Homo sapiens: one gene and its partners. The protein of the gene in region 3 purifies or fractionates together with the protein of the main gene of each other region. This does not show direct contact. Each region holds a gene or a part of one and is shown on either strand. Other genes may lie near its edges. The genes, in order: ZZZ3, MCM8, CRYBG2, EIF4G3 and NEIL3.

The links.
Region 1: the proteins of CRYBG2 (region 3) and ZZZ3 purify together in Homo sapiens (affinity purification with mass spectrometry; one large-scale study listed by BioGRID and IntAct). This does not show direct contact.
Region 2: the proteins of CRYBG2 (region 3) and MCM8 purify together in Homo sapiens (affinity purification with mass spectrometry; one large-scale study listed by BioGRID and IntAct). This does not show direct contact.
Region 4: the proteins of CRYBG2 (region 3) and EIF4G3 purify together in Homo sapiens (affinity purification with mass spectrometry; one large-scale study listed by BioGRID and IntAct). This does not show direct contact.
Region 5: the proteins of CRYBG2 (region 3) and NEIL3 purify together in Homo sapiens (affinity purification with mass spectrometry; one large-scale study listed by BioGRID and IntAct). This does not show direct contact.

Annotation. Positions count from the first base shown.
Region 1 is NC_000001.11:77,630,657-77,634,175, forward strand, and holds part of ZZZ3 (ZZ-type zinc finger-containing protein 3), read right to left. Parts: intron 2,750-3,519; 5' UTR 2,699-2,749; coding exon 1,194-2,698; exon of another isoform or gene 1,179-1,193; intron 1-1,178.
Region 2 is NC_000020.11:5,971,147-5,974,665, reverse strand, and holds part of MCM8 (DNA helicase MCM8), read right to left. Parts: intron 2,660-3,519; coding exon 2,629-2,659; intron 2,091-2,628; coding exon of another isoform or gene 1,940-2,090; intron 1,611-1,939; coding exon 1,470-1,610; intron 1-1,469. UniProt on the Homo sapiens protein: Component of the MCM8-MCM9 complex, a complex involved in the repair of double-stranded DNA breaks (DBSs) and DNA interstrand cross-links (ICLs) by homologous recombination (HR).
Region 3 is NC_000001.11:26,351,316-26,355,548, forward strand, and holds the start of CRYBG2 (beta/gamma crystallin domain-containing protein 2), read right to left. Parts: upstream 2,816-4,233; 5' UTR 2,721-2,815; intron 1-2,720.
Region 4 is NC_000001.11:20,935,898-20,939,397, reverse strand, and holds part of EIF4G3 (eukaryotic translation initiation factor 4 gamma 3), read left to right. Parts: intron 1-3,500. UniProt on the Homo sapiens protein: Component of the protein complex eIF4F, which is involved in the recognition of the mRNA cap, ATP-dependent unwinding of 5'-terminal secondary structure and recruitment of mRNA to the ribosome. Functional homolog of EIF4G1.
Region 5 is NC_000004.12:177,308,386-177,312,687, reverse strand, and holds the start of NEIL3 (endonuclease 8-like 3), read right to left. Parts: upstream 2,815-4,302; 5' UTR 2,735-2,814; coding exon 2,579-2,734; intron 1-2,578. UniProt on the Homo sapiens protein: DNA glycosylase which prefers single-stranded DNA (ssDNA), or partially ssDNA structures such as bubble and fork structures, to double-stranded DNA (dsDNA).

The DNA of each region.
Region 1 (3,519 bases), about 51 Mb from region 3:
GCTCAGATGACATGAACTATCAAATACAATATTAAGATAGTATTTCAAAAGAAAGCAGAAGAAAACTTTTCAGAAGGGGCCTATGCTGAAAGACCACTGTATTACCATATACAAATCTACACTATCTACAATGCATGGCAAAAAAAATATTATGTCCCACAACCAGGATTTGATACTTTGATCTGACACATACCAGGGTCTGGCAATTGTCACAACAAAACCACTAGAAATGTTCCTCAAATCAAAGTATTTATGTACAGTCTATATAATCTGGTTGTGATATTAATTCAAAAGCCTACCCTGTAGCAATAAAGGTAATTAACTTATTACATAAGTCTGTCTTTTATTGTTGCTAATCATGATATTTATGATGAGCACTGTGTGTTCTAGTTCTTTTCAGGATTATCTAGACATAGTAAGCTCCAAATCTTTTGTGTTATGGCCCTGAATACTTTATAGGAAATCTAGGCAAGAAATATTGTGAAAAATTTGGATACAGAATTCTTTATTTACAACAGTGACTTAGCAAAGGTTGAGAGCTGATAATATTTTAAGATAGTCTTCCTTTATATTTAGTATCAGGAAAAGCTATGTCAAATGTTTTATGTAAACTATCCAGTAGACTAACCCTTGCTAATATGCTAATTACAATATACTGTCATAGTGTTAATAGTAATATCCACTTCTCTAAGTCAAAGTCAAAGATGATGCATAAAGCACATTTTTTAATAAAAAATTTTAATTGGGAATTAAATGTAAGTAAGATAAAAGTAGATGTCAAGCCTGCCAGACTTCACATATCTGGATGATGTCTAAGCACTCATTAATTGTCCTATGCTATCTAGAACTATAAATCAAAGCATACTGTGGTAACTCAATGTGTTTCCATTGTATAAATTAACTAAAAATGATATAAAACATATTAAAAAAACAAAAACACTACCAACCATGTCTTTTCTAATTGAGACATGAAATATCAGAACTGGAAAGACCATGTTGTCATAGAACACACGTGTAAAGTTGAGTTTAAGTCTTTTTTTGGAGTTTTTCTAAGAGTTGAGAAAATCATATTAAACCTAAAATTTTAGTGAAAACATTAATTTTGGCTGTAATAAAAACACTACGAATAGATACTGAAAAACTTGGGGAATAATAAACAAAGCAGAATTCATGGTTACCATATTTACACATACTCTTTGTTGTGTTTCAGTGCCACATGATCTGATTCAAAGTAATAAACATCAGGATCATCATCTTCCTCTTCTGTAATGTGCTGACTGGCACTCTCTTTGGCAGATGGCAAATGTCCAATATTGAGTCTTGCCTCTGAGGGTGGTTTACTTACTCCTTCACTTCCATTATTTTGAGAGTCACAACATATCCCTTTTTCATTTTGAGAAATTTCACCAGGATTTGTAGGAGATTGACTTACATTATCACTAACAGTTGCATTTGTTTCATTAGGACTAAGATTATTCTCCTCAAATTGTCCATTTTCTCTGTAAGGAGAACTGTTTTTAGTGGGACTACCTCTGGTAGGGGCTGCCCTTCGTGGTGAGGTTCTCAGAGTATAACGATGTTCTTGAGGTTCTGATAAAGACATCATTTGAGCTGAAACACAGTCTAGAACAGGAGATGGTTCAGGTTCTCCGGAGGCTGGCATACTCTCAAGACTTGTGTCCAGTTCGTTATTGGTGTTTTCTTTACACTGCTCTTTTGAGGCACTGCTATCTCCCACCACATCTACTTCCTCCTCAGAATCCCTTAAAGATGACTGAGTTTCAGAAAAGGGCCCTGTAGCTGGCTCAGTAGTCAGCTGATTAACATGTTCCACAGGCAAGCAGGCAGTTACTATTTTGTGGTCCTCCAACTTGACCTGCACTTGTGAATCTGTGCAAGGCACCTTATGGTCTATATAACTGTCCTCCTTCCTACTATCAAGGAACATTGAAGTTTGGGTATCCGTATCCCCATTTTCAGCTACTGATTTTTCCTGTAACACATAGGAACCAATGCTATTTTGTTTAGTGTTCCCATCAGGCTGACAGTCATCACAGTTTATAACAGCTGAATCACTGTCATCAACACCATTGACAGCCAAATAGCCTGTGATTTCTTCAACTACTGCAGAATTAAGTGGCCCTTCCTCACTGACATTCACCTTTTTAATTTCCCTTTTCTCACAATCATCCAGTATAAGACATCGACAAGCTCGTTTAGTCCCTTGAAAATCTGCATCATTGTCCACTACTGTACTCCTCTGTTCTACTGACTCCTTGTCTGATTTTATAGGAGAATCTTCTTCTGAACTGTTTGGTGCTTCAGATCTAAGACAACGCTTAATTCTTTTTAAAACTGGTGAAACAGGTTCTGTTTGCCTTCTCTCACAATTTTCTATAGCCTGCCTTTCTATGTTATCCTTTTCTGAAGAAGAAAGTCCTCTTTTCCTAGGGCTTACCCATGATTCTCGGGTACTCTGCTGTTTTAAATCAGTGGTTCTCCCATTATTATTTCCTTTCTGAATTGGCACAGGCTCTGGTCTCTTCTTTGGTGATCTTGATCGTACTTGAGAATTAGAAGAGATTTCTTCAGGATGCGCAATGCTACGATTCCTTAAAGTTCTACCACAAAAAGATTCATCCAAGCCGTTTAACCCCACTGTTGATCTTGTAACACGAGTAGATCGGGAAGCAGCCATACTATGGCAAGTCCCTACAATACGGTCATCATGATCCACTCATTGGGAAACCTTCAAAAATGTAAACAAAATAATGAGAAAAAGGTAATAGTTAATATACCCAGAACGAAAGTATAAAGCTATAACTTTTTAATCCAAGTATACTTGGACATTACAGTCTATAACTATCTATATAACTGCCAATATTAAATTATGTGATAAAAATTCTTTAACGTTTCCAATAATGATATAAATTATAGCTAACAAGCATACAGTACTTAATATGTTCCATGAGTCTTTCTATATGCCTTACATACATTAACTCACTTAAGTCTCACAACAACTCAGATAGGTGCTACTATCATCCCTACTTCACGAATGAGATTAAAGCACACTCTGAATATTCTATCCAAGGTCACAACTCTAGTAAGTAGCAAGGCAGGGCTCTAGAGACCATAACTGCCTCACTGTGTATCTGCCTCTCAGGCATAAAACACCCAGAAGAGATCTATCCTAAAGATGTGATTTCATTTTGGTCATTAAAATAATAATCTTCGGCCGGGCGCAGTGGCTCACACCTGTAATCTTAGCACTTTGGGAGGCTGAGGCGGGAGGATCATGAGGTCAGGAGTTCAAGACCAGCCTGACCAACATGGTGAAACGCTGTCTCTACTAAAAATACAAAAATTAGCCAGGTGTGGTGGCACACGCCTGTAATCCCAGATACTCAGGAGGCTGAGGCAGGAAAATTACTTGAACCCGGGAGGCAGAGTTTGCAGTGAGCCGAGATCATGCCACTGCACTCCAGCTTGGGCGACAGAGTGAGACTGTCTCAAAAAAAT
Region 2 (3,519 bases), on a different chromosome or scaffold from region 3:
TGTACACATATAGACACTAGGACCCTAACTTAGAAACTCTTAACTCAATTGGCTTGCAGTGGGCTATGGTATTTTCAAAGAGCTCCAAAAGTAATTAAGATGTGCAGCCAGGATCCCAATCCTTGGAAAAAGATTTAGGAGCCATACTACTACAACTTACTAAAGGGCCAGAGAAGCCCTGGTCAATTTTCCACATCGAGTGAAGAAGGGGGCCACAGGCATTTTTAGAAAGCACAGTGGCCAAGCACAGTGGTTCACACCTTTAATCCCAGCACTTTGGAAGGCTAAGGCAGGTGGATCTGCTTGAGCCCAGGAGTTCGAGACCAGCCTGGGCAACATGGCAAAACCCCATCTCTACAAAAAAAGCATTAGCCAGGCATGGTGGCACATGTCTATAGTCCCAGCTACTTGAGAGGCTGAGTTGGAAGAATTGCCTGAGCCCAAGGTGGAAGCTGCAGTAAGCCAAAGTTGCGCCACTGTACTTCAGTCTGGGCAAAAGAGGAAGACCTTGTCTCAAAAAAATAAAGTAGAAAGCACATTACGGCTGGCTTACCGGTTGTCACTTTAAGGAAACTACAAGCATACCAATAAGCAGCACCTTCTAAAGCCATCATAAAACCCAGGAAAGGAAAACCACTAGGCTCTGACTGGCAGAGGCAGAATTTTCTTGGGGATCTACAAATGACTGATCACAGCAGTTGCCTTGCTTTGGACAGAGCGTGGTGGCTCACACCGGTAATCCCAGCACTTTGGGAGGTTAAGGTGGGTGGATCACTTGAGGCCAAGAGTTCAAGACCAGCCTGGCCAACACAGCAAAACCCTGTCTCTACTAAAAATACAAAAATTAGCTGGGCGTGGTGGTGCGCACCTATAATCCCAGCTACTCAGGAGGCTGAGGCACAGGGATTGCTTAAAAGTGGGAGGCAGAGGTTGCAGTGAGCCCAGATCATGCCACTGCACTCCAGCCTGGGCAACAGAGTGTGACTCCGTCTCAAAAAAAAAGGTTGCCTTGATTTGGACTCACAAGCAGTGGAGATATATACAGACAGATCCCACACCTTTAGCAGACTGTTCTTAAAGCCCAATACAGTGTTTATGTACTTGTATGAGGGAGAATAGGTGACCCTGCTTTAACTCCCCTGAACTATTCTGTTCATAGGTGAGGTCACATAACAACTAACAACAACAAAGACTAGCAAAACAATGGTTAGAGAAATGGTTAATATTTCCTAATAGTTGATGTCTCAACAGACCAAGATGTTTGTACAGCCTCTGTAACAGGAGACTGGCTCAATTTAAAAATATGGTCAGATATAAGTTACATATTACTCACACAAATTCCAATTCATTTACGCCACCTAACCATGTCCTCTGGAACACACACACTACATGCTTTGAGAAAATTCACTTGTGAATTATTAACGCATTTTACAAGCAAAAGAACAAACACTAAATGACTGATTGTCTACCTGTAGCATTTGACTTTTTCCTAGGCCTGGATCTCCAACAACAAGGATGTGGGGGTCTCCCCGAATTGGAATTCTGTTTTTGTCATCTGCGTATTTCTGGCTTCCTCCAAAGAGTGCTAATGCCAAACCTGCTTTAACAAGCTCAAGTGCGAAAAAAGAACAAAAAACAGAAGTAAGGAAAACATAAAGGTGACTAGTAAAGGGGGTATTCCTCCTTCTATAATATTAATTTGTTTGGGGATTGTTTTAAAAGCATGATAATTTTTTTCTAAGAAAAGGAAGTCTAAAAACAAACTTCTATCACGTAAATGATTAAAAAGTAAAAACTTGAAAACATATAAAATCAGAGCTATCTTAGAAATTACTAAGAGCTACCTTGCAAGGCATAAATCCATTCCACAAAAACGAGAAATATTTGTTTTTGCTTTAATACTGGCAGTGTCTAGTCACTTTAAAAGCCCATTTCTTACCAAAAGTAGCTGGGTCTGGTGGCGCATGCCTGTAGTCCCAGCTACTCGGCAGGCTGAGGTGGGAGAACTGTTTGAACTTGGGAGGTGGAGGTTGCAGTGAGCTGAGATCGCACCACTGTACTCTAGCCTGGGCGACAGAGCAAGACTCCATCTCAAAAAAATAAATAAATAAAATAAAAGCCCATTCATATTTACTCTAGTTGGTAAAAGTTTTTTCTTAAAAGGAGCTATACGGCTGACACCTATAATCCCAGCACTTTGGAGGCTAAATTGGGTGGATCACTTGAGGCCAGGACTTACAGACCAGCGTGGGCAACATGGCAAAACCCCATCTCTACAAAAAATACAAAAAAATTAGCTGCACATGGTGGTGCATGCCTGTAGTTCCAGCTACTCAGGAGGCTGAGGTCAGGAGGATGACCTGAGCCCCAAAGCTGGAGGTTGCAGTGAGCCATGACTGTGCCATCACACTCTAGCCTGGGTGACAGAGCAAAACCCTGTCTCAAAAAATTAAAAAAATTAAAAAAAAAAAAGCTATAGTTTGCTTGCCTCCCATATCATTAATTTACAAAGCATATTAAGATATAAATAACTGGCCAATAGAAATTTGCTACTTTCTGTAAAGTTTTTATATGTTATTTTTGCTAACCTTATATACTTTTTGAGTAAAGATGAAGTAAAATACTTACTTCATGACCAAAAATGACAGGGCAAAGCGAGCTGAAAAACAGAACACAACTTATAAATTCTAATTTATACTTCATTGATCCATTAGGAGATCTCCTCTACAATTTGTTTAACCTGCTTAATATCAACAAAGACAAATGTAAAAAATTTACATCCCCTCAACTGAAATTTTATTCTTACAGTACATTTCTCAAAGTTCTTGGTTAATCTATAAAGGTTAGAATTTTTTAAAAACTCTGCATAAGGAACAGAGGATACTTGCAAAGCATCTTAAAGTAACTAAATACAATGTTGCTCTTCTTACACAACTAGCCTTAAAATGCGTCACAATCATGGTCTTCCATTTTAGGATACGGGATTATATTGTATTTTATGTGAACAGACATCTTGAGACTGTGCAGCCAAGTCACTGAAAGGAGACTGAGAAGTGAACTCAGTATATAATACTCTAAGATGGGATAAAATTTCATTTTTTTCAGTTCAAGTCAAAAGGTCAAATTAAATAAGAAAATGAGGCCAGGTGCAGTGATTTGTAGAACCAGAAAGTCCAGAAAGGTGGGATAACTCAAAGCATGGGCTTCCAGCCTACAGGTAAATCTAAACATTTTCTGGTTGACAATTGGTTGAGTTTGTCTAAAGACCTGGGATCAATAGAAAGGAATGTTTGGGATGCAAGAGGTTGTAGAGACCAAAGTTTTATCATGCAGATGAAGCTTTGGCTAACAGGTTTCAGAGAGAACAGGCTGTAAAATGTTTCTTATTAGACTTAAAATCTGTGTTGATGTTAATGCCAGAGAGGTATAATAAGGCATGTCTGACCCCCACTTCCCTTTGTGGCCTGAATCAGTCTTTCAGGTTAAATCTTAAGAGCCCTGGCTGAGAAGGAAGTCTGT
Region 3 (4,233 bases):
CCTGCCTTCCACTCTCCGAGCTTCCTTGTCTCTGATGGTGCTTATAGTAAGTGGCAAAGCTTGAGCTCTAACTCATTCATTCATTCATTCAATTACTCACTCATTCAGTGCTAATTGTATCAAGGGATGTGCTAGGCCTTGGCTAGACTCAACCAGAACCAGAGCCAACTTTCTCATGAAAGGTGGCATATTAAGAAGCCAGGGGCCAAGGAATTAGACATAAAAACAGGGACATTTGGAAAGCGCCATAGGCATCAGGAAAGCGACAGGAGAGCAATGTTAAAGGAGGCGGCCGATCATGAGATCAGATATTGTCGATGACCTCCTACCAATCAGAATTTAACGTCTTTCTCAACCAGCCCAACCCCTGGACAACACCCCTGATAGCCAGTCATTCCACAAGCATGTGGTCATTGGCTTCTGCCTGCATACCTCCAGGGACAGGGAGGTCACCACTCGACAGTTCACCTGCCCCGTCCCTGAACAGTCATGAGTGCTAGAATGTCCTTCAGACTCTGCTGGAATGTGCCTGCCTATAGATGCCCCCTTTTGTCCTTGCTCTGAAGACATACCCCAATACAATGACCCAGGATGCCTCTCCTGGGCCAGCAGAAGGGGCCATTCCCAGAGCCCTTTCTTCTGCAGGGCCCCAGACCAGAAGTGGATTTGTTGGCAGCGTGACCTGTGACCTCCAAACAAGGCGTGTGGAGCTGGGAAGGGAGAGGCTGAGGAGGGGGCGGGGGGAGTGTGGGAAAGAGCCTTGTCTAACCCAACAAGTCCTGGATTCTCCCCACTTACCTGTGAGTCACCCCCAAACTAGGCCAAACCAGTCCACAGGCCCACATGCAGGCAAACACATGCTGTGTCACACAGACGCAGGCACAGACACACAGACAGATACCGACACAGACCCACAATCACACAGGCACAAAGATACACCTAGAAGCCTATAAAAACATACACAACCAGGGACACACACACAAATATACACTCACCCAAGAAATACAAACACGCACAGGCACTCAGAGCCACAACAGACACACAAATCACATACAGACAGAAACACAGGCACAGTGACACACACGTGCACACATTCACAATACACACACAGTCAATTCACAGCCCCAAGCTCTCTTCCCCTTGAAATTCACCTACCCCTGAACGTGGACACACACGCTTGGATGCACACGTATCTTACACATTCCCACTGGCAGTCCCAGCTATGTCTCACTTCTTCTCGACTCCCATATTTGCCAATCTTGGCCCAGAGAACCTTCTCCCAGGAAGGGGACATAGAAGGATGATGTTTCTGGAGGTCACCTGCCCCCCACTCTAAGTGAGCCCTAGCCTCCCACCTGAGTCTGTCATTATCCACCTGGGCCCAAAATACCCAGGTAGTGGCAGATAGAAACCACCTCCCCCCAGCTAACCCTACTTCTCTTTCCCGTCCCCCTCTCCAAGGTAGCCTCCTCCACCCCCCTTCCCTCTCTCTGCAGCCCTTGTCCCCCAGCCCCTGACTTCTGGGGCATCCAAGCAGGTCTCAGAGCCAGCCTGGGTCCTACATCTCCCTCTTCCTTGGCACGGAAGCAGTCACATTGACCCCTGCTTGGAGGACCCCAGCATTCCTGATTCTGCCTCTGCTACTACAATGCTGCCCAATCCACCGCCATAGGAGCCTAGAAAACCCTGGAGCCCACACAGCAACCTCACTCAACCCTCCACTCTCTGCACAGGGCCAAAGAGGTTTCTTCCAGGCAGGATGGAGCAGTGGTTAGAGCACAGGCACTGGAGTTATAGAAACCTAAGTTCAGATTCTAGCCCCTTCACTTTCTAGTTGACTTTGAGCAAGTGACTTTCAGAGCCTCCTAGAATTAGGTGACAGGGGTTGGGATCAGTCCCTACTCATGGGATGGTTGGGAAGATTAAATAAAATTATGCTTAGAAAACAAATTGCAAATGACAGCCACCCCATCATCCTTAAGCACCCTTCAAAACCCCACCCCAGGCTCATTTCCTCTTCAGGGTCATCCCTGGGAGGTTCCATGTTCATCCCTCCTTGATGAGCTTTGGGGGACATATCCTTCCACCTCTGCGCCCCCCAGGCAGATTTAGGAGAGTCATTTCAACACAAATAAAACTAGGCTTGGGAAACTCGACACCCACTCCTTTGGCTTCCAGCTCAGAGCCAGGTGGGGTAATTATTGCTGTCACTGAGACGTAATTAATAAGCATCCCTGCTATTTTGGCACCCCCAGTCTCTGGAGTTCAAAGTATATTCCTGTAGCCACCTCCTCCTTCCTCATTTTCAGCTACCAAATCCTCTCAACAACTCAAGGCCCAGAGAGGTTAAGCAACTCGCCTCAGGACACCCAGCACCTAGGCTGGGTGCCAATTCCCAGGCTGAGTCTGTGGCCTCCTGAACAGAACTGGGGAGTGGTGTATGCTGTGAAGAAGGCAACCCCCCTTCCTGCCCATCCTCTCCCTGACAGACTTTCCCCTTTCTCAGATGGACAGTGGGGGTGAGAAGCAGTGGGTTCCAGGAGGTAGCCTGTGGGCAAAGGGAGGGAGAGGAAGGCAGGGTTGGAGCAGGGAGGGAAGGCAGAGTCGGCTCAGGGTCCTGAATGAATGGGCCTAGAGCTGGAGAGGCCCAGGGAATAGGCAAAGTCTCAAGACAGGGCAGCCAGGCCAGTCTCCCCTCCCATCTCCACACACAGACCGACCTCTACTCACAGTCTGCGTGGGGACCCAGGTGTCCAGCCAGCCTGGAGCTCCTGCTGCTGGGCCGTGCTCCCCTGATGCGATTGGGCTCTCAGCTGGGGTTCCTGAGGCGGGGCCGTCCGGCACCCTGTGATGGGGCGTGGCCCCTGGGGAGGCTCCCACCAGCCCTCAGATTCCTCAGGGCCGCAGAGGTGTGGAGCTGGTTGGGCCGGTTCTTCACCCTCCTCCCCTGGTGCTTGCCTGTGCCCCAGCAGGGTGACAGTGATGTAGTAGCGGGTCCTCCTGGAAGAGGGACGCGTGTGTAGGGTCTGGGCAGGCTCTGGCAAGGCAGTCCCTGGGGTGGCGGGCTTGCCCTTTGTCCCCTCTGCCCTGGGGAAGGATGCAGGGTGGAGCAGCAGGGGTGCGTCTTCCAGGTTGCTGGGTGGCTCAGGCCTCAGAGGGACCTCTGAAGCTGTGGGTGGAGACTGCTGACAGGTGCAGCCTGAGGATCCCTGCTCCCCATGTCCAGGAGCAGGCCCTGGGTATTGGGGGAGCCTGGTACGAGCAGACTCTCCTGAGGCCACTTCCAGGGCCAGGCTCTCAGGCCCCAGGGAGGCATGGCTGGCCAGGTCGAAGGCGCTGCCCACCGCTGGCCTCTGTAGGCGCCCCAGGGACTGAGCAGGACCCCCCGAGATTCCTTGTTGCTTCCAAATCCAGAAATCATCATGGTCCCCTACATGGATGTCCCATTCTGAGCAGCTCTGGCCTTGGGCCTGGGTGAAAACAGAGATAGACACTGAGAGAGGCAGGGGCATAGTGACAGCTCCCCCTGCCCTCCAGGCACCCCTGGTACCTGGTATCTTCCCTGTCACAAGGAAGCTGAACAGGGCTCTGACACCAAGGTAAGCTGCCCTAGGGAGAGGCTGCTAAGGCCACCAGAGCTGGACAAAGGGACAGAGCTCTGGGAAGGCCCTTCAGCATTTAACTCACCCCTTCCCATTCTACGTAAGAGGAAAGTGGGGCCCAAAGAAGACGGCGACATGACTGAGATCACACAGCAAGCCAGCGAGGGCTCCCAACGCTCAGGTGCCGCACTCCCTCCCAGGTGACAAGGCACCCAGGGCCTGGCCGGCCATGCCCCCCAAAGGCTGGAGATCTCAGCTTCCTTGCAGTCCTGAGGTGCTTCCCCGCCCTGGGGCTGAGGGCTGGGTGGGAAGGCCTGCCTCAAGTGCCCATGGCCTCTGCCCATTCCAAGCTAACAGAGAGACTGCGGCCACCTCTCTTGTACCCTCCCAGCTTGAGACAGAACACCTGGGAGGATGTACCTGGGATATAAGGGAGCCAGAGAAGAGGGTTCCCCTGAAATGGGACAACACCTGACCTCTTCTGCTGTCTTCCCCTGGGGTCCAGCCTGGCTGTGGGGATAAGAGGAGAGGGCTCAGCACCCCAGACCCAGATGGACACTGCCCCCAAAACGACCCGTTTTAAAAGATGGGCTGTTTCCTTGGCAACAGAGGAGGTCAAAATTCCGCCTAG
Region 4 (3,500 bases), 5.4 Mb from region 3:
ACACCAGCACCTTAATCAAAGAGTATAGACTCTTCAGTGGTAATCCAGAGAGCACTTAGAAAAGAAAGAACTGTTTTTTTAATGACTTGGAATAACAGAGGTTTGTGATGTTGGGAGGTAAAGTTTCTTGGCATTTTTCTAGTCTCCTGATTTTTTAACCTATGTGTTTAAGGGAATTACAAGTTTTATAATTTCCTTGTACATCTTAATAGTCTTCAAAATCCAACAGTAAATGAACTTCAAGAACCCCTGCAACTCTAGCTTTTTTTTTTTTTTTTTTTAATTTTTTTTAAGATGGAGTCTCGCTCCATCGCCCGGGCTGGAGTGCAGTGGTGCAATCTCGGCTCACTGCAACCTCTGGCTCCCAGGTTCAAGCAATTCTCCTGCCTCAGCCTCCTGAGTAGCTGGGATTATAGGCGTGTGCCACCACGCCTGGCTTATTTTTGTATTTTTAGTAGAGACGGGGTTTCACCTTGTTGGTCAGGCTGGTCTCGAACTACTGACCTTGTGATCCGCCCGCCTCAGCCTCCCAAAGTGCTGGGATTACAGGCATGAGCCACCACACCTGGCCAGCAGTTTGTAAATTATAAAGCCTCAGAAGCATTTCTGACCCATTCATTTCTGTCCGAATATTTTTTAATGGTTTTGTCACAAAAGTTAACAATGAAAATTAAAATTACCTCCAGTCTTTAAGTATATCCACCTGACGTGGTCATATGCTTAATGACTATAATTTATTTGCACTTATTCACATAATATTCACTTATTATACCTTGTTTACTTTGAGAAGTTAGTAAATCATAACAGCCGTTTACTTTGAGAAGTTAATAAATTGTAACACCAAAACAGTCTGGTTTGCCTATGAGTCTTTTGGTGGTGACTTTTGAGAATAGTTTTTACTTGTCTCTGCCTGAGGATGAAACACCTCAAAGCTGGCTTCAGAAACCTGATACATAAATAACATATCAGTTGGTATAGAGATAGTTGGTTAAAGCAGTAAAGTTATAACATAAGGGATATGGTATCTTTTAGTTCTGCTGCAAAACATTTTCTTGTAACTATTCTAGATCATATTTCTGAGTGAATAAAAATGCATCAGTTGAGGCCGGGCGCGGTGGCTCATGCCTGTAATCCCAGCACTTTGGGAGGCTGAGGAGGGTGGATCACCTGAGGTCACGAGTTTGGGACCAGCCTGGCCAACATGGTGAAACCCCGTATCTACTAAAAATACAAAAATTACCCAGGAGTGGTGATGCGCCTGTAATCCCAGCTATTCTGGAGGCTGAGGTGGGAGAATTGCTTGAACTTGGGAGATGGAGGCTGCAGTGATCCAACATCGCGCCACTTCACTCCAGCCTAGGCAACTGAGCAAGACCCCATCTTAAAAAAAAAAAGAAAGCATCAGTTGTTTTCGGATTGAAGAACAAGCTCTGTAAAATTAGAATTTGGTGTGTATATATCTTCAGTGTACTCTGAAAAGCCTCAGTTATTGGCCACACTTTTAATATCACCGTCACTTTAGTAATTAAATGCATAAAACTAGATATTAATTGGATGATATATTAAAGTCTTGGGAATTTTTATTGTTTATTCTCTGTATCTGGTGGGAGGAAAAAGGAGTGTTTTGAACTTGTGGGAAAGCATTCCCCATTAATCATCCAGGAGTTTGTTTTCTACAATTTTAGGAATGTATATGATGTATAGTATGTAACATTAACTTTCCCACTTTTTAAAAGAATTGTGACTTTTTTATTTTATTATTTTTACCTGTATCAGATATAAAACCATTATTTAAATTTTCTTAGGCAGAGGGAGATTTCTAATTTTTCTATTTATTTTGTTTTTTTGGCTCTTGCTTATAGTACATTTTTAATGTATATTTTGTAAGTTTGTTTTATGAACTTATCCAGATAAATTTTCCTGGATGTAGATTGATGGCAAGTTATTCTAAAGCAGATTTGTGTTTACTTTATCTGCTGCATGTCTTGGGGAAAGCATTTGCTGGAACTAAATCTGGGTTTAATGTTTGTTAGAACTAAATCTGGGTTTAATGTCCTAAAGCTACAGTTCTATCCCAAAGCCTAAGGACAGCCATACCGTATGGCTTGGATACTAATTTTCAGGGTAACAGCAATCTTCTCTCCATCCAGTTGAAACAACGTCCTTTCTCATCATCACTGTGTTGGTTCAGTGGTTTATTCCCTCTCTCTCTTTTTTAAGCTATCTTTTCACTGAGCATGTCACCCATTTGGGAGTCTCAGAGCTTTATGTGAGCATCTCAGTTCCAGGTTCCCACTTTGCAGGGATCCAAGATCTCTCTTTTCTTATGGGTGTTAAAAATACAAATTCATTGGTTATAGAGACTGGCACACCCTTCTACACCCCCAGGAATGTAAGGATGGCATCAGCCACTGACCTGTAGTTTACCTTATATTCTCGTAAGCTCAGCTAAGGATGTAGAAGGGTTTCCAGATTCTGTAGAATATAACATAGGAAGTTTATTTCTCAAATGGAGATACGATTATATGTTTTGGTAATGTTAACAAAATACTGATCCATGTAGCCAATCAAGTTGCTGCTTTCTCTTTTAGTTTAGACTTACTGAAGTGTAAAGGGAGCATACTTCAGTGCAAGAAAAATATTTTAATAACAACCCTTGCTTTATTCTCAACTGTGAGAGTATTCAGAGTACTTTCAAAGAAATAAACATAGCAAACATAAAACCAGAGATATAAAAGTCTATCAGTTTTCCTAGATTAAACTAAAAATGACTAATCTTTTAAATAATAAAATTTATTCTAACCTTTGCTCAACTTACATATTCTAAAATATATTTGAAATATCTCTGGAAGATTTAGTCGCTGGGGCCAAAAGTAGATTGCCAATGGTTTGAGTATCCTGTTGGCCTAATCACTATACTACTATGCATCCTTATAATTTAGCTTCTACAGAAACGTGTTCTGGAAACATGGAAACAGGACTCCTTACACATTCCTGGTTCTTTGTCATCTACCAAAACAAGCAGAGTGATCCTTAAAGCAAGGACCATTGGCTTCAGTTTTCAGAGGCTTGAGTCTGAGTGATCCTTAGGGATAAATAAAGGTTTTCTCCACCTTGTTTGTAAACTGTTTCCAACAAAGCTGCCTAAAAGGTATGTTTCTGCCATCCCATTCCTATTTTCTTGTTTCCCTCCCCAGTAAACTCTTAGGCATTCCTTGGAAAATACTGATGCTGGTCAAATTCTTTTATATACTGCAGAATGAGCCCAGACACCTGTTAGTTGAGCCTGTTGGCAAGTCCCTTACGTAGTTCTTCCTTGCCTCTTTATGTGGGATAGATTTCCCCATTTTTTACAGTAGTTCATGTCTTTCATCATGAGCCCTAAAGTCTCAGTCATTGGGTATTAACTTAGTTCTACATCTTTCTGAGTAGTTATACTTTGTTCAAAATGTAGCTCCCTTTTCCCCACATTTAGTAACTAATCCTCCTCCATGACAAAG
Region 5 (4,302 bases), on a different chromosome or scaffold from region 3:
AAATAATACCTTTAAATGCCAGGCTTTTTATGTGTGGGGTATAACTTATTGAATATTGCTGCCAAGTGATGTTAATAATTGCCTAACCATTACTGACGCATTTGTATTATATTATCAGGCTGCACTCTTTTGTGCAATCCAAACATGGCCATAGAAGCTGTTAGAAGAGAATTATCAGAATAGATATAAGAGAATTGACTCAACCGAACAAAACTAAAAATGGTGGTAGACACAGCCAAAAATCCAAGATTGCACTTTTCTATTTAATAAATAACCACTACTATATACTGAGCATTATGGTGTTCTTACCGTTGTATGCTAAAAAAGCAATAAAGATCCTACTGAATCTTTTATGGCTGAGAGGAGCTATGGCATGGTTAAGAGGGTAGGCTTTGGAGTTTTAAAGAAAAATCAAACCCTGGTTTAGCCCCTTACTAGACATGTGATCTTGGGCAAATTTACTTAAAGTCACTCTGAGCCTCATATGCCTCATCTGTAGAATCAGGTTAATCCTTTATCATAGGGTTATCCTTTTTCATGACTGAATGAAATGTAAAAGCATCTCATGCCATACCATCAGAGATAATCACAACAAAACTTAAAAGGAAATGTTTAAGCTATTTTTCCTAAATACCAATGAGGTGATATTTATTTAAAACATTAGGTTGGACTCTCACAGCAGAAAGCATATCCTACTCATCTTCGTATCCGCAGGAGCTAGCATAAAACCTAACACAAAATACGTTGTGGTTGAATGATGTAAATGATGATATCCCTAAGTATATTCATGTCATATCCATTGCTTAGCCCTCCCATCATAGTGATTCTCTTGTCTTCATCTCCACCACCAGCACTTGACCCCAAATTTGTCACCTGGATTTCTGCAGTCGACTCCTAAATGAGAGGGCAGTGTCTACTCTGGCTTTCTTTCAGTCTTTTTCCTGTTCCAATCCCTGAGCTGCATGGCTTCTACTCACCCTGCACACCTCAGCTTTTTTTTTTTTTTTTTTTTTGAGACAGAGTTTCGCTCTTGTTGCCCAGGCTGGGGTGCAATAACGCGACCTCAGCTCACTGCAACCTCCACCTCCTGGATTCAAGCGATTCTCCTGCCTCAGCCTCCTGAGTAGCTGGGATTACAGGCATGCACCAGCATGCCTGACTAATTTTTTATTTTTGTAGGGATGGAATTTCTCCATATTGGTCAGGCTGGTGTTGAACTCCCAACCTCAGGCGATCTGCCCACCTCAGCATCCCAAAGTGCTGGGATTACAGGCATGAGCCACTGCACCCGGCCCACACCTCAGCTTTGCTACTTCCCTGGGGAAGCCTTCCCAGGTCTTCCTACAAGTCCTTAAAGAATCGTGTATCTCTCCTTCACAGAACTTATTAATTTATATTTCTTTAGGTGATTATTTAATGAATGTCTTTGTGTCTTCCCAACTGAAGTATAGGCTCCAAAAGAGGAAGTATTTGTTTTTGCTCCCCAGGTGTCTTGAGTATTCAAAATTTTATTGAATGAGTAATTTTCATAAATATTAATATTCTTAAGAAACCATCTAAAATCCATCTCTGTGGTACCCTGAAACGATTTTAGAAACACTATAACAATAATAAAAAAAAATAGGTACAGAGTACTTACTGGCATATCAAGTCAAAATAAACAAAAGGGCAATTGGAAGGAGATGTAAAACTTATTTTTTCCCAAGTTTGAAAATATATTTTCTTAGACTTAGAACCTCATTTCTTTCAAGTTGTAAGCATATGCTAATTTCATAGCAGGCAACTTTTTCTTCCAGGACCAAAGGCTATAAGAAGCTTTGCAGAAGAAATTGAAATACAGTGCAATATTGCATGTAGGCATGAAATACAATCATCCATACATCTAGAGGGCTTTTAAAACATGATGCCTTAATCAGAATATTTTTAGTACAAGTTCTGGCCAAATGAATACCACATCGTCTGCAATGAATGCCTGAGTGGCAAGAAGCTGTGCTAGTTTACTTTAAAAAGAAATAAATTCACTTAAGGGAACCAGAACTGGGTTTCATTGCCCCTTAATTAGATGGCAATATGAAGTTGAGTGAGAAGTTAGTGCTAAATTTTCTACGTGTAGTTTTAGAATTATATACTAGTTGTGATATACTTACCAATTGCAGATTAGCCAAGCAAGAAAGTAGAATTTTATGCTAAAAGCTTAAAATGGGACGAAGAAAACATATCAGAGGTAGCAGAGATTTGATAATATCAATAGTAAAAAATGCAGCTGTAGACATGGGAAACCATGTGTGTATCATAAAGAAGTTAAGTAAGGTGACTCGGATAAAACACCTTCACTGGATTCCCCTAGGGCATCTTGCTCCGGCAGCGTGAGCCCAGAACGCTAGCCCTCCTCTCCTGCGCAGGCGCGCTAGGACCGACTTCTCCCTACAGTAAAGTGACGATAAACTCTGTGAAAGGTGGGACCCCAGGAAACCTGGGCCAGAGCAAAGAGATGACACTTTAAATCCTGGAACCCTGATGGGGTCTTTATTCCATTTCCCCCCTGCTGACTGCATGGCCTGTTACAGGAGTAGCTCACCTGCGGGGAGACCACAACCGTGGAGGCTGCGAGCCGCAAGGCGCGGCCCTGCAGACTCCGCAGAGCGCTTCCCCGCACGCCGGTCACCGCCTGGCCCGGGAGCACCCGCGCGCGAATCTTCTCTCCATTCAGAGTACAGCCTGGTCCTTCCACCATCTCTGTGGCCGGCACTGTGGCCCACCGATTGCAGGGCCTGGTGAGAATACCGCTGTGCAACTCAACGCTGCGCGGGCACTGACCGCACGCAGAGGAAATTCAAATCTCGCGCGCGTCTGGCCCCGCCCAGGCCCCGCCCAAACAGCACCCTAGCTGTTGAGGTCGCTCCCTACGGCGCATGCGCTGTGGTTCACCCCCGCCCTAGGTCTTGCTGTGGGTTTATTAAGAAAACGCAAACGCGCGTGGGGCGGGGGGCGTGGAGGACAACTAACTAGGCTGAACTGTAAAAGCAGAAGAAATTGGGACTTGGAAAGCTCTGAATGTATTTTCTTTGCGTTAAAGTTTTGCCCTTGTCTTTGAGCTACTTAGTATACACACATTTTCTGATCTGGTCCTCTTAATCTGTCCTTGTCTGTGACAGGACAGATATGTCACAGACAATCTTGTTTTTGGCTCTGTTTTTGGCATGCTATATTCGGACGTGGGTGGGATAAGAGAAACGAAGAAGAGGGTTTTTGGAACAAACAGCAGAATATATTCTAGTGTCTATATTTAAAAACTCCATTATTAGATAGTTAAGTGAGCCCTACCTAAGTGCATGCATCCATTTTGTAAGGGGACGCCCCAAGATGAAAGCTATATGAAATTGCTTTGTTAAACGTAGAGGTTTATATAAATTTGAGGGTAATGCGTAGCTTTTCAAATTTACCCACAACCCTAACCAAAGATGCATGCATACATATAAATCTATGAAGTTTATGACTCCATATAGTTTTGTAAATTATAAAGTGTATTCTTTTTTGAAAACTGAAATACTACACATTAAAACAGAATGTCAATTTCTAAGTGATTTCATAAGCATAGCACTGTGCTGCCGTTAAACCACAAGAGCATATACACAGGTGGTTGCTGACTTAGGATGCCCCAGCGTAACAGTGTTTTGACTGTATGATGGTGCAAAAGTGACACACAGTAGAAACTGTACTTTGAGTACTCATATAGCCATTCTGTTTTTCATTTTCAGTACAGTAGTCAATAAATTATTCAACACTTTATTATAAAATATGCTTTGTGTTAGGTGATTTTTCCCAACTGTAGGCTAATGTAAGTGTTCTGAACACATTTAAGGAGGGCCTCGTGAAGCTATGATGTTTGGTAGGTTAGATATATTAAAGGCATTTTCGACTTACTGTATTTTCAGTTTACAACGGGTTTATCAGGACATAACCCCATCGTAAGTTGAGGAGCATCTGTATACTAGAGAGTTGAATTTGAATATACTGAAGACTTGATTGAAATTTTGAAAAGTATTAAATCTTTCCTTTGCAGGGAGAGATTAGTGATCAAAAGTTGGCTGGATCAATTTCAGGACTATTTGTACTTTACTCCCTTGTTCAATTCAATAATCTCTGTCCTTTGATGGAGAAAAGTCCTATATACCTTCTCCTCTTTCAGCGTTGTACTAGTTATTTATTGTTACCTCATCAATTATCCCATTTGTTATTTCAAAGTTTCTGTGGGTCAGGAATTTGGCAATAGTCTAGCTAGCCAGAGTCATCCTGGCTCAG